Linked DNA regions of Homo sapiens. The protein of the gene in region 2 interacts with the protein of the main gene of each other region in a pairwise test. Each region holds a gene or a part of one and is shown on either strand. Other genes may lie near its edges.

Region 1 (3,764 bases), on a different chromosome or scaffold from region 2:
CTGAGGTGGGAGGATTGCTTGAGCCCAGAATGCAGAGGTTGCAGTGAGTGGTGATCACGCCACTACACTCTGGCCTGGATGACAGAGCAATACCCTGTCTCAAAAAACAAACAAACTGGTTTTCCTAGGGTATTTAGTGGGGAGCGAGCAGGAAGAATCAAGATGTGTACAAACAGAAAAAACTTGGTGGGAGGGAGACATGCAGTATTAAAGCCCTTTTTAAAAATCTGAAACTTTTTTACCAATACAAAAATTATTTTTATTTTTTATTTATTCATTTTTTTTGAGACGGAATCTTGCTCTTTTGCCCAGGCTGGAGTGCAGTGGCGTGATCTCACCTCACTGCAACCTCCACCTCCCAGGTCCAAGCGATTCTCTTGCCTCAGCCTCCCGAGTAGCTGGGATTACAGGCACCTATCACCACGCTGGGCTGATTTTTGTATTTTTAGTAGAGACGGGGTTTCTCCATGTTGGTAGGCTGATCTCGAACTCACGACCTGAGGAGATCCACCTGCCTTGGCCTCCCAAAGTGCTGGGATTACAGGCGTGAGCCACCGCGCCTGGCCACAAAAATTTATTTTTATTACTTATTTCCACTATCACATGAGCTAGATCATATAACAACATTGAAAATCCACTGGCTAAAGACCAAAGACAGACTAATGGCTCAGCTAGATAATAGCAAATGATATGTTGGACTTAAGTTGTTTGATTTTTTTTTTTTTTTTTTTTTTTTTTTTTTTTTTGAGGCAGAGTCTCGCTGTGTCCCCCAGGCTGGAGTGCAATGGCAGGATCTCGGCTCACTGCAACCTCTACCTCCCTGCAACCTCTACCTACCTGGTTCAAGCGATTATCCAGCCTTACCCTCCTGAGTAGCTGGGACTACAGGCATGCGCCACCACGCCTGGCTACTTTTTGTATTTTTAGTAGAGACGGGGTTTCACCATATTGGCCAGGCTGGTCTTGAACTCCTGACTTCGTGATCTGCCTGCCTCGGCTTCCCAAAGTGTTGGGATTACAGGCGTGAGCCACCGTGTCCGGCCTTGAGATATTTTTTTAATTCAAAAGTTTATTCACAAACTTCAACTTTTAAGTGTTTTATTACAGATAGACTGGTAAGCTACAGAATTTTTAGGACTTTTTTTTTGGGGGGGCGGGCTAGGAGGGCTGATTTCTGAGAAGCAGAGAAAAACTTGTAGACAGGAGAAGCCGTTTCTGTTACAGTAAAATAAAGCTATTATACTATTAGTATCCTTCATGATATTAAGCAGATACAAGACCCGTTCTTATTTATTAAAAGAACTGAGGGATATAGTAAGTATCAGTTTTTATTAAAGCTGTCTTTCTCCTATTGGACAATGAGTTGCGTTTACTGAGGGCCAGAATCCTTTTGCTCATATCAGGTTTGCTCCTGCCTAGCATATAGTAGTTGCTCAATATATGTTTATATATTAAACGAATAAATTGGTGGCTTTATTCTTTCTGCCTAAAATATTGTCTGGTCTTATTTGTTAGGAATTCTGACCACCTGATTTTCCATAATGCCTCATATCTGGTATTCTGGGTACTCTGCAATTAGGCCATTAAGAAACTGAAAGAACCAAGTTGCATTTTTTTTTTTCCAGGCTGGCTAGGGAACCATCTACTGGAGTTGAGGCTATTTTTTCCTGCCCTTTTATAGGATATTTTTTAAAGTATGAAATATTTTAAGTGTACAGAGATCAATATAATGAACCTTCATATACATACCACCCAGCTCTATAAGATTCTAGTAATCTGCCATGTTTGTTATTTTAAAATAAATAACACATTAAAACGCAGATAAATGATTCTGGTCTCTTTCCTTAATCTCCGGGTAATCATTATGAATTTGGTATTTGTCTCATTTTTTTTTCCTTTTTTTTTTTTTTTTAGTTTTGCAATATACATATGTACTTACCAAAAAAAACTATTTTGCATGCATATAACTACTTATCTGTTCTCCTATTTTATGAAGTTGAGGTTGTTTCTAATTTTCTTTACCAAAAAAAAATGAGCATTTCTCTAGGGAGTTTACTGTGAAGAAAAATGGCCGGGTCATAGAGTACGCTATTTATTTATTCATTTATATGTTTATGCCAAATTGCTCTGAAGTTTTTACTAATTTAAACTCCAACCACTATTGTGTGAAAGTTTGTTTTTCTACACTCCTCAGACTTGACATTAACAGAGATGCATGTTTTTTCAATCTGAAATGTTCTCTTAAGGTAATCTTTTCCTATCAGTCACATTAAATACCTTTTCATAGGTATTATTCATTGTTCAAGTTTACTCTTATAAGTTGAAGAACATTATTTGCATATTTGTGCTGTTAGATTTTTGTTCATTGGATATTGATAGGCATAGTTAATAAGTAAACATGCTTTTTAACAAACTAACACATTGCAGGCTTCTTCTATATTCTTTTAGATATTTAGATAGATGTTACTAACGTTTTACCCCTCACAAAACTCAAGTTCTATAAAAATATTATGAACCTTCCCATACTTGTTGGCATTTCAGAAATGGTACAACCTAATGAGCCTGTTACCAAGAATCTAGTGTAGTGAAATCTGGAGCCCGGGCCAACGTGTGTGAATTGCTGATAACATTTTTGTAAGCTATTTTTGATTAAGGGTAATTTGTCACTTAATGACCATAATTAAGTTTAATGTACCAGTAGTAGTTTATTGCTAAATGCCTACTTTGTGTCATACTACAAATTTGAAGAAAAGAGTATTTCCTGCAATGGTGACTCTCTTCTTTTTCTCATCCCCCCAGGTTGTATCAGAGTAAGATGGACGGTAGCTTTGATTGTGATTGTGGTGAGCTGGAGCCACCTGATCACTAACAAAAGACATCTTCTGTTAACCAACAGCCGCCAGGGCTTCCTGTTGAAATAAATATATAGCAACAAAGGAAAAAAAGAAGCAAAACGGAAATAGTGCTTACCAGCACCTTAGAATGATGCTGCTCAGGACCAGTCCAACACTGAATGTATCTGCACTGTGAGGAGAATGTTCATAGAAGCCTGTTGTGTGCATATTTATTCACATTTTTGTTAAATGTTAAATCGTTTAGCACGGTAATCTGAGTGCACAGTATGTCATTTCATTCCGTTTGAGTTTCTTGTTTTCGTTAAATGTCTGCAGAGTTGCTGCCCCTTTCTTGAACTATGAGTACTGCAATCTTTTTAATTCTCAATATGAATAGAGCTTTTTGAGCTTTAAATCTAAGGGGAACTCGACAGGCCTGTTTGGCATATGCAATGAACATCAAGAAACCATCTTGCTGTGGAAGCATAATTATTTTTCTTCTCCCTTTTTGAAAGATCTTTCCTTTTGATGCCAGTTTTCTTCCTTGTTTACACAAGTTCAATTTGAAAGGAAAAGGCAATAGTAAGGGTTTCAAAATGGCAGAGAAATTTGAAAGTCTCATGAACATTCATGGTTTTGATCTGGGTTCTAGGTATATGGACTTAAAACCATTGGGTTGTGGAGGCAATGGCTTGGTTTTTTCTGCTGTAGACAATGACTGTGACAAAAGAGTAGCCATCAAGAAAATTGTCCTTACTGATCCCCAGAGTGTCAAACATGCTCTACGTGAAATCAAAATTATTAGAAGACTTGACCATGATAACATTGTGAAAGTGTTTGAGATTCTTGGTCCCAGTGGAAGCCAATTAACAGACGATGTGGGCTCTCTTACGGAACTGAACAGTGTTTACATTGTTCAGGAGTACATGG
Region 2 (3,764 bases):
AGCTGGTGTCTGAAATAAGAGGAGTCTTGTTGGTGATCTCACCCTTTAACTTTTAGGTCTGATGCTAACTCCAGGCAGTTAGTGTCAGAATTGAAGGATCTGCCCTTGACCTGTGGGGTCTGTGCTGTCTCTGAGTAGTTAGTGTCAGAACGGAATTGAATTGACTGGCAGGACCCCCAGTGGGCATCAGAATGCAAAAGGCTACAGGAGAGCCTTAAAGAAAGCCACAGCTGTGGAAGTGAAAGGAAGAGGTGGACTTAAGAGGCATCATGGGAGCAGACGGTACAGAACCCCACTTCAAACCTAGAGGTGACAGAAGGGAGAAGTGTTGAAGATGACACTGAGGATTTGCCCTATAAAACCAAGACACTGTGGTTCTGTTACTGGAAACAGAGAAGCTCATAGGAGGTGCTGATTCTCAGGGACAGAACAGAGAGGGAGAGGAGTGAGGAAGCAAAGAGCTCATTTCTAGAAAACTGGACTTCAAAGTGCTGACTGGGTGTTCAGATAGAACCATCTCACAACCAGCTGGAAATTCAGGTTGGAAGTGAAGCAAGATGTCAGGGGGAAAGGATGGAAGCTTCAGAGTTATCTGCAGAGGGTGGAATTTGCATTTGGCAGAGTAGATAAGATACTGAGAGAGGAAGAAGACCAAGGATAAAAAGTACTTTCAGAAGTACACAGGCAAAGGGGAGAAGTGAGGCGACCGAGAGAGGAGTTCCACAGCAAAGTGTGGGGAGAAGGGTGCAGAACAACAGCCAGACCACTGTTTTCTTGCCATGGCCTGAGACGTGCTCACATGCCTAGATGCCATCACCACGCAAACGACGGGCTCAACCAGGGCCTCTCCTGTAGAGCTTCATAAAGCCTTTCCTATATTAACAGGCACAGAGCTTCAGGGCAGCCTTTGCTGAGGCTCTTCAAAGATTAGTCAAAAGCTTGGTAAGTTTGAGAAATATTGGTTTAAAAATAACAGTTCTGCTGAGCAAACCAGGAGAAGCAGAAGAAAAAGTGGTGATCAGTCAAGAGACTTGCAGTTGAGAGCGGTAGCAACTAATATCACCAACACACAAATACAAGCAACAGATACAGATACCACTTCTTTCAATAGCCTTAAATTCTCTTCCTCCAGATACACATTATCTGTATATCAATGGTATAAATTTACGCTCCTCCCTCTATAAACTAGCCTTTGTATAAAATGCTGAAGACAATTACAAAAAACCATTTATATCAAATACATATTAAGTCAATCAAGTGTCTGGAGAGCTACTCGATGGCCACAATATTCAAATCTCCCCTACTTAACTTTGTTAAGTTCTTCAAAAAGGTAAAAGAAATGAAATCAACATTTGTATTATACATATTTGTATTATACGTGAACCTATATTTACATAAGCCAACAAAAATTTGTGTCTGCCTGGAGGAACGGAGAGGCCTCTGGGCAACCGTCAGGATTATGAAAGGAAAAGCTACAGCCTACCCCAAATACGCTTGTTTCCTTTGCCTCCGGAAGGCTGAAAGAGAAGGCTGGCTGAGAGGCAACTCTGGAAGCCAGAGTTGGAGTTTTATCTCAAAAGACAAGTTTTAGGCCGGGCGCGGTGGCTCATGCCTGTAATCCCAGCACTTTGGGAGGCCAAGACAGGCGGATCACCTGAGGTCAGGAGTTCGAGACCAGCCTGACCAACATGGAGAAACCCCGTCTCTACTAAAAATACAAAATTAGCTCGGCATGGTGGTGCATGCCTGTAATCCCAGCTACTCGGGAGGCTGAGGCAGGAGAATTGCTTGAACCCAGGAGGTGGAGGTTGTGGTGAGCCGAGATCGCACCATTGCACTCCAGCCTGGGCAACAAAAGCAAAATTCCATCTCCAAAAAAAAAAAAAAAAACCCAACAAGTTTTAGTGCATCATTTAAAAAAGCCAACCTTAGATATTATTGCTTTGGCTTCTTCTATAGTCTTCTTTAACACTTGCTTCATCTTCTCATTTGGAGCTATAAAAATAAAAAGGAGAGAGGGAGAAAGAGCTGTCAAATACAAAGCCTCTTCTGAAATACCTCAATCCCCTCTGTCTGAGTCAGGGGGTAAATGAACTGAGAGAGAGTGCGAGTGTGGAATTTAGGGAAGAGAAGCAAGAAACCTGGCTGCCGGAAGTTAGGTGAAGACCTCTTCCCAACAGCAGAGACCTGGAGTGTGCTTTACGCAAAGTGGCAAAGGCTACAAAAAACAGAAATGCATGTCGTTGGGTAAACAGGGCCGGTGAACTTTTTCTGGAAAGGGCCAGAGAGTAAAATTTGAGGCTTTGCAGGCCACACAGTCTTGTTGGGTGGGATAACTCAGCTCTGCCACGTAGCACAAGAGCAGACAATACTTAAATAACTGGGGTAGCTGCGTCTCCTTACAATTTTATTTACAATAGGCAGCTGGCTAAATTTGACCTGTAGCCCATAATTTGGTGACCCCTAGATCAGGAAAAAATAATAACTTGAAAGCTTAGAAGCCAAAAAAAAAAAAAAAAAAAAGAAGAAGATGGAATGCCCAAACCTAGGGAAAATGGGGCAAGTTGAAACCATACATTCCTAGTAAATAACAGTATTAATTAGACATTGAAAATATTAGAAACACAAGATTGTATTATAATAGAAGTGGTTAGGCTGGGCGTAGTGGCTCACGCCTGTAATCCCAGCACTTCGGAAGGCCAAGATGGGTGGATCACCTGAGGTCAGGAGTTCGAGACCAGCCTGGGCAACATGCTGAAACCCTGTCTCTATGAAAAATACAAAAATTAGCCGGGCATGGTAGCAGGCATGTGTAATCCCAGCTACTCTGGAGGCTGAGGCAGGAGAATCACTGGAATCCGGGAGGCAGAGGTTGCAGTGAGCCGAGATTGTGCCACTGCACTCCAACCTGGGTGACAGAGTAAGACTCTGTCTCAAAAAAAAAAAAAAAAAAAAAAAAGGTGGTTAATTTAAGAACATATTACATATTGGTTTAATGATGAATAATGAACTGTTAACTGGTTCTCATATTTTTTTTCCTCATCTTACCACATCTTCTTACGTAAGAAAGCTGTGGAAGACAACCATTTTTCAGGTTAACATTGAAAGGAAAAAATACTAGGAATTCTTACTATCCCTGATATTTAAAAAAATGTATTTTTGAGCTGCTAAAGGCCTTGCAGGAATACTGTTCTTTTACTCCTAACAGTGTTTTAGGGCTGTTCAATTACAGTGTTTTAAATGGCGCTTTTAATGCAGGTTAAAAAGAATAAGCTATCAAAAAGGATTATCATCAATTCCACATGATCAGCCAAACACTGAAAGGAGAGGAATTTCCTCAGTGTTTTGCCGTGTACTGAAGTGCTCTGCCCCAGAGAGAAGCATGTCCTTGATCAGGGAAGTCCATGTGCTGACATGCTTTCCCTTTCCTCTTTCACACAGTCCATCTCGAAAGATCCCCCAACATTTGCGAACAGTAACAAAACACAACTCTGAATACATTGCGGTGAGGACCTGCCAACAATTATTAGGTGGAAACACATGAAATTGCCAATACTCAACCATTTTTGAGCTACAGAAGGGAAAGGGTCATTTCATCTGGTTCGTCGAATACATATAAAAGCAAGCTGCAACTTATTAAAGAGCAAGACAAAAGCTTCCTTTATCTACCTAATTCATCCTAGATTAGAGTTTTACCAAAGGAGCTACAGAGTACAGTATTTTGTAAGTCTGTAGAGAAATGACGAGGTCAATTTTTAAACGTA
Region 3 (3,764 bases), on a different chromosome or scaffold from region 2:
CTGTAGTCTCAGCTACTTGTGAGGCTGAGGTGCGTGGAAAGGTTGGGCCCAGGAGGTGGAAGCTGCAGTGAGCCAAGATTGTACCATTGCACTCCAGCCTGAGTGACAGAGTGACAACCTGTCTCGGAAAAAAAAAAAAAAGTAAAAACTATAGAGTATCACAAATGTATTTTTAATATATAAAAGCTGTTAAAAATTAGCAAGAAAAAAATGAAATTTTAATAAAAAATTAAACAGGAACAATATAAGCTGTCAGTTTACATGAGATGATACGTTCAATAAGCATAAAAAAACCCAACAATACAGTAACCAAAGAAATGAAAATTGAAAATTAAGGGCCAGGCGCGGTGGCTCACACCTGTAATCCCAGCACTTTGGGAGGCCAAGGCAGGTGGATTACTTGAGGCCAGAAGTTCAAGACCAGCCTGGCTAACATGGTGAAATCCTGTCTCTACTAAAAATTAGTGCACTCCAGCCTGGGCGACAGAGCAAGACTCTGTCTCAAAACAAACAAACAAAAAGAAATGAAAATTAAAACAAATATTTGTTTTCACATTTACTACGCTGGGATAGAGATGAAAAAGAATAAGATACAATATTGGGTATACTCTCCTGTACTGCTGCCAGGGGGAAGTATAAATTGGACAGTAGCTTTGGAGGGCAATTTGGCCATTAGAAAATTGTATGCACCATGCAACAAGAATTCTACTTCTTGGAATTTATGCTTTAAAAATATCATAAAAATGGACAAAGATATATGTATATTTCCTATAGTAATGAAAAAAAATGAGAAACAACTTTATCCAATAAAGAGGAATTATCTAAGTTACGGTATAGCCAAAACAACTAATATTATGCCGTTCATAAAAATGATGCTGTGAATATATATTTATTGACCAAAAAAAGCTATGTACAACAAAGTGAAAAAAAAAAAAAAAGGTTACAATTACTACCTCACTGTCTGATGCACCTAGGCTCACCTGGCCTTGGGCTCTGAAAGAGGACCAAGCCTTTCTTCTACTGGGCCCAGGCCAGGTGACCCCATTTTGCCTCTCCCCCAGGCCTGACCACTATGCGACCAACAAGTTCTCCCAGGCCACTGACTTGGCCATGAAGAAGACAGAGGACAACAATGCACTTGTGTTCATTGTGGATGTCGAGGTCAAAAAGCATAAGATCAAACAGGCTGTGGAGGAGCTCTATGACACCAATGTGGCCAAGATCAACACCGTGATCAGGGCTGATGGAGAGAAGAAAGCCCATGTTCAGCTGGCTCCTGAGCATGCTGCTTTTAGAGGCTGCCAAAAAATTGGGATCATCTAAGTTGAATCCAGCTGGCAAATTCTAAATATATATGTTTTTCACCATTAAAAAAAAAAGCAGGTTACAAAATAGCTAACCTACTGTGATCCAATTTTGCAAAAATGATACAGGTGAAGGAAAAACTCAGCAATGTATCTGAGTGGTACATGTATGATTGTTGTTTCAGCTGACTCATATTTTCTATTTTTTCGACAACATCTATAACCTATATAAAACACGGAGACAACTCCCAAAGTAAATCTCCCAAACTCCATCCACAGCCCTCATGCCCTGGCTCTAGTTATACTGAACTCTTCCAACCATCTTTCAGTTCCTTGAATATGACCCATGTATTCCCTTGCTTCCGGAAATCTTACTCACCATTTGAGGCTTGGTTCAGGTATGCATTCACTTTAACACTTTTCCAGGAGAGGATGTTTTCCCTGAGCTGTCTTTCTTTCTCCTCCTCCTCCAATAACCACCCCCAACCACGGCAGCTGCTCAGTTACAGGTCAGAGTCTTCTCCCTCAAGGTTGCACACTCTGAGCTAATTCTATCATGCTACTTACACTAGGCTATATTAACACAAGCCTGTCTTTATTTCTTCTACTTCTAGCTGAGAACCAAGCACATGGTGGGGACACAAATGTTTGCTGAAGGAACATGGGAATACAACTATTATCTTGGCCTGGTGCTTTTTTAGGTCTCTGGCTGGGTTTGAGCCATGACAGTATTTTTCATGAAGTTTCAGGTAGAAGATAAAGATAGTCATTGTCTGTTCAGCTGCAGAGGTTACAAGAAGGACCAACAGAGAGTTCTGATGGAGGCAGATTTGGACTTTCTCATTATATACCTGCCTTGAAATGGACATTCCTACATATTACCTTTCATGTAAGATGGGGGTCAGTTAGAGTTTCAACAATGGGTGGATGACCCCCTCTGTAAGAATGCTGTTAAAAGAAGTTCTCATATAGGGCATGTGAGGTTACAATGATCACTTCCGGGGTTACTTGCAATGCTAAGGATGTTCTATGATAGTCTCTTCAGTCTGAGGAAAACTACTAACTTCTCATAATTTATGTAAACTATAACAGGCTTTGAATCCTTTAATAAAACATTATGCCCTTTGGAATGATGATTACTTTTAATAGAAATAAAGTTCCTCAATATTTTAACAGCTTTCAGTTTTACTTTTAAAAATGGTCTACTTTCTCATCATGACACTTTGAAACTTCTCCATGTGTGTGATGTATGAATAAATAAATGGCTTTGGAGATAATCTGGGGAACATTGCAGAGTTTGCCATCTTACGAACCTAATGGGCTAGAGAATAATGCTCTTATGATATTCGGAGCTATGGAGACATACAGGATTGTCTTTAAGATGCCTGCTGTGAATGTATAAATAAATGCACTATGTACACAATGGATAAAGCACTTAAGATTCCTAAAATTTTAGGAATGAATTTTAGTGCTGCTGATATTCAGGATAAACAATTATTTCCTTATAATCAGTGTTTCCCTGCCCCTCAAACAGTGTTTTCTTTTTTTCTCCTAATTATGCTTCCATTGGGATGGGGTCAATTATGCATAAGTGAATGTGGTACTTTCATCTTTACCTTCAAAAGACTTTTAAACCAACTTTTAGGTCAAAATGCCATCACTTTAATGTTAATTCTACTTAAGAATTTTCAAAAGAGGATTCAAAAGACAAATATTATGATGACATACCAGAAGATAATCGAACATACCTGATCCTTTTCAAGTGTAAGTATTTGATAGCCAGTTGTTCTACTACATATTAGTTTTCCACTACTATCAAAAGAAGCCAAACGTAATCTAGGATTAAAAAAAAAATAAAAAATAAACACAAGATTTTTAAACCACAGATTAAACAAGCTCTTCCTTACTTTCATATTTACTTTTTCCTCTGTTTTTTATTTGATAAAAGACTTTTAGGAAGTCTTTTCAAACTGTAATCTGACTGCATTCAGTGACAAGCCTGTGCTATTATACATATCTGGCCAAGAGAAATCATTTATAAATGTTTTTATTGTGGTAAAATATACGTAACATTTATCATTTTAACCATTTTAAAGTATATAGTTCTGTGGCATTAAATATATTTCCACATTGTTCTGCACCCATCTCTAGAACATTTTAATTTTCCCTCGCTGAAGCTCCTTACCCATTAAACACTAACTCCCCACTTTCCCTTCCCTCAGGCCCTGGCAACCACCAGTGTATCCTCTGTACCTATGAATTTGTCTACTCTAGGTACTTCGTATGAGTGGAATCTTACAATATTTGTGCTTTGTGAGTGGCTTATTTCACTTGGCATGTCTTCCAGGTTCATCCATGTTTAGCATGTATGAGAATTTGCTTCCTTTTCAAGGCTAAATAATGTTCTATTTTATGTATATACCACATTTTGTTTCTCTAGCATCTGTCAGTGAACATGTG
Region 4 (3,764 bases), on a different chromosome or scaffold from region 2:
GCCTGCCTCGGCTTCCCAAAGTGCTGGGATTACAGGCGTGAGCCACCACGCCCGGCCACATCTGGCCAATTTTTTTGTATTTTTAGTAGAGAAGGGGTTTCACCATGTTGGCCAGATTGGTTTCGAACTCCTTACCTCAAGTGACCCTGCTCCCCTCGGTCTCCATAAGTGTTAGGATTACAGGTGTGAGCCACCGCACCCTGCCTAAAACAATGAACTTGATACCTGCTTGCAAATATGTTTTTTTCCTCTCTGGTATAGGGTGCTACATTGTAGAATCAAAACATCAGACTTAGAAGGTAGAGTCAGTGAGTGGAAGGAGTCTTAGGAATTATTTATTCGTAATCTCTAGTAGAAAAGGAAAACTTGAACTTTAGAGAACTTTATAATAAAATGTGGGATTTTATCAAAAGTAATACAATTAGCTAGTAGTAGACTGACTAATTTAGCTCAGTTCGTTAGACATTGTTTGAGCACTTGTTATGTACTCTAAACTGATAGGCAGTGTGTTTCTTTTTTTTTTTTTTTTTTGAGACGGAGTCTCGCTCTATTGCCCAGGCTGGAGTGCAGTGGTGCAATCTTGGCTCACTGCAAGCTCTGCCTCCCAGGTTCATGCCATTCTCTTGCCTCAGCCTCCCGAGTAGCTGGGACTACAGGCGCCCACCACCACGCCTGGCTAATTTTTTTTTTTTTTGTATTTTTAGTAGAGATGGGGTTTCACTGTGTTAGCCAGGATGGTCTCGATATCCTGACCTCGTGATCCACCCGCCTCGGCCTCCCAAAGTGCTGGGATTACAGGCATGAGCCACCGTGCCTGGCCTAGGCAGTGTGTTTCAAAGATAATGAAGTCCGCTGGGTGTGGTGGCTCAGGCCTGTAAACCCAGCACTTTGGGGGGCCCAGGTGGGCAGATCACGTGAGGCCAGGAGTTCGAGACCAGCCTAGGCAACATGGAGAAACCCCGTCTCTACTAAAAATAAAAAAATTAGCTGGACATGATGTCGTGTGCCTGTAGTCGCAGCTACTCAGGAGGCTGAGGCGTGAGAATGGCTGGAACCCAGGAGGGGCAGGTTGCAGTGAGCCGAAATGATGCTGCTGCATTCCAGCCTGGGCGGCAAGAGCTAAATGCTGTCTCAAAAGATAATGAAGTCCATTTTCTGATCTTGAGAAGTTCAATTTAGTGGTCTGGAATCTAGAGGTATTGGTCCATAGTTCATTTTTGGCACTGCCCTGTTCTACCTCTCACTGCTTGAGACTCCCCCACCCCACCCCACCTGACAGAGTCTCTCTCTGTCACCAGGGCTGGAGTGCAGTGGTGTGATCTCAGCTCACTGCAACTTCCACCTACCGGGTTCAAGTGATTCTTCCACCTCAGCCTCCCCAGTAGCTGGGACTACAGGCATGTGCCACCACTCCCGGCTAATTTTTTTTGTATTTTTAGTAGAGATGAGGTTTCGCCATCTTGGCCAGGCTGGTCTCGAACTCCTGACCTCAGGTAATCCGCCCACCTTTGCCTCCCAAAGTGTTGGGATTACAGGTGTGAGCCACCCCGCCTGGCCTGCTTGAAACTTTTATGTGAAGTTGCTCGTTATTTATTCATCGTCCACCTCTTCGAACTAGATTTCAGGCTTCTGATAAATGTAGATAAAACCTTGGTAAATACTTGAACTTAGTTTTTTCGGGACAGCTTATGGATTTGAGTGCTACTTATATGAAAAGAATTAACTGTGTTGCATATACAAAAAGTAACCCACGAAAAATAGAAGATATAAGCCCTGCCTTTAAGGATATTGTTATCTTTTGGGGAAGATGATGTGAACAAATGCAGAACAATTATTCATAGTAAGACAAACCACCTATGAGATCATGTTTCTGTATATAGAGTGTTACATTTAGTTTTGATGGGCTGCAAGAATAGGTAAGTCAATAGCTGTCATTTTTGGGCACCCTGACTGGGGGGACATGGTGGCAGTTATTTTCAGTAGAAGTTATAATTTCCAGGTTTGTGTTTGTTGTCTTGACTAGGGATGGTAAGGAAAAGGCTGGGAGTTTCCCTAGGTGAGTTTTATGAGCTAACTTCCTATAAAAGGAGGATGCTACATTTGACAGAATCTCAGTACTCTGGGATGCTCATTTCTAAGTTCTCTTGTCCTCTAGGGGTGCCTTCACCTATACCCTTAGTTTTTTCCTTCCTTGGCATTGGCTCCTTTGCATGGCTTGGTTTACAAGGGTGCTTCTTTGGAATAATTGGAAGTGGGTGTAGATTGCTAATAAAGCTTTCATGGAGGTGAATTTTGAGTAAAATTTTGAAAGTGAGGCAAGGTTTGGTGGAGAAGGAGCAGCAGGGGATTTTGGTTTGGAAACACGGCTTGTCTAAAGGTTTGGAGATATTTAGAAATAAGCAAGTAGTGTGTGTGGAGGGGGAATTAGCCAGTAGGTTTTCTTGAAAGGAGTAGAAAACATGCTGCCAAATAGCAAGAACCAAGGATAGAGCAATTTCACAGTACCTTTATGTATGCATTACTTGGGATTTGATGACATAAGGAATTGCAAACCAACATAGACTGTTGAGTGAGAGGCAGGATGGTATAATGAAAAGAAAAGGATTTTGGAGTCAGTGTCCTAGGCTTAGAGTGTCATAGATTCAAATTCCAACTCCATATTTAGTGTGACCCTGAGCAGGTTGCTGAATCTCTGAGGCTTGGATTTCTCATTTGTAATAATCCCCCAGTTTTCTTGTCTGTAGTAAAGGTGATAATATTCACACTTTTGTGAGAATTGAAGTTCATTATCACATGATGTAAAAGCACATAGTATAATATTATGGTAAATGCTCTGTAAATATTAGTTGGCTTTCCTTTTTTTCTGCTTTGCTAGTTTACAGTCTTAGAGGCTTCCCTTTCTGAGGCTTTAGAAGAGTGATACTTGTCGCTCTGGGGTTTTGATTAGTAAAAGAGTGAATGTCACACCAACTTGCAGGCTGTTCTTGCAGGCTAGAGATGTAAAGTTATTAAGGTCCGAAGTAGGGTGACAGTTGTAGAAAATGATACCTAGGGTCAGGCTGGGCGTGGTGGCTCACGCCTGTAATCCCAGCACTTTGGGAGGCTGAGGTGGACGGATAACTTGAGGTCAGGAGTTCGAGTCCAGCCTGACCAACATGGTGAAATGCTGTCTGTACTAAAAATGCAGAAATTAGCTGGGTGTGTTGGCACACATCTGTAGTCCCAGCTACTCGGGAAGCTGAGGCAGGAGAATCGCTTGAACCCGGGAGGCAGAGGTTGCAGTGAGCTGAGATCATGCCACGGCACTCCAGCCTGGGTGACAAGAGTGAAACTCTGCCTCAAAAAAAAAAAAAAAAAAAAAAAAAAGATAGCTAGGGTCAAACTTAGAAGATACTGATAAAGTATCGTAGGACTTGGTTGCCTATAGTCCCAGCTACTCAGGAGGCTGTGGCGGGAAGATAACTTGAGCCCAGGAGTTGGAGGTTGCAGTGAGCTATGATTGAGCTTCTGTGCTCTAGCCTGGGCAACAGAGCAAGACCCCTGTCTCAAAAAAAAAAAAATACAGGGCTTGGTGAGTGAGGAATTGTGTTGGAAAGAGTGTAGGCTTTGTTGTTAAACCAGGCTTGCATTCTGATTTTGTCACTTAAAATTCAGTCTCTTCCGTATCTCAGGATAATTCCTGTTTTGAAGTGTTATTGGGAGGATTATACATAAAACAGCTAGAAATGCCTGGCACATAATGGAAGTTTAGTAGTAGGAAGTTG

What was found.
Region 1: the proteins of CFAP298 (region 2) and MAPK6 interact in a two-hybrid assay, tested with the Homo sapiens proteins (one large-scale study listed by BioGRID and IntAct).
Region 3: the proteins of CFAP298 (region 2) and GMCL1 interact in a two-hybrid assay, tested with the Homo sapiens proteins (one large-scale study listed by BioGRID and IntAct).
Region 4: the proteins of CFAP298 (region 2) and TAF1 interact in a two-hybrid assay, tested with the Homo sapiens proteins (one large-scale study listed by BioGRID and IntAct).

Annotation. Positions count from the first base shown.
Region 1 is NC_000015.10:52,043,031-52,046,794, forward strand, and holds part of MAPK6 (mitogen-activated protein kinase 6), read left to right. Parts: intron 1-747; exon of another isoform or gene 748-2,634; intron 2,635-2,799; 5' UTR 2,800-3,430; coding exon 3,431-3,764. UniProt on the Homo sapiens protein: Atypical MAPK protein. Phosphorylates microtubule-associated protein 2 (MAP2) and MAPKAPK5.
Region 2 is NC_000021.9:32,605,722-32,609,485, forward strand, and holds part of CFAP298 (cilia- and flagella-associated protein 298), read right to left. Parts: intron 1,996-3,764; coding exon 1,928-1,995; intron 1-1,927. Other genes in the region: CFAP298-TCP10L (uncharacterized protein LOC110091775), read right to left, coding at 1,928-1,995. UniProt on the Homo sapiens protein: Plays a role in motile cilium function, possibly by acting on outer dynein arm assembly. Seems to be important for initiation rather than maintenance of cilium motility.
Region 3 is NC_000002.12:69,871,121-69,874,884, reverse strand, and holds part of GMCL1 (germ cell-less protein-like 1), read right to left. Parts: intron 3,141-3,764; coding exon 3,053-3,140; intron 1-3,052. UniProt on the Homo sapiens protein: Possible function in spermatogenesis. Enhances the degradation of MDM2 and increases the amount of p53 probably by modulating the nucleocytoplasmic transport.
Region 4 is NC_000023.11:71,369,093-71,372,856, forward strand, and holds part of TAF1 (transcription initiation factor TFIID subunit 1), read left to right. Parts: intron 1-3,764. UniProt on the Homo sapiens protein: The TFIID basal transcription factor complex plays a major role in the initiation of RNA polymerase II (Pol II)-dependent transcription.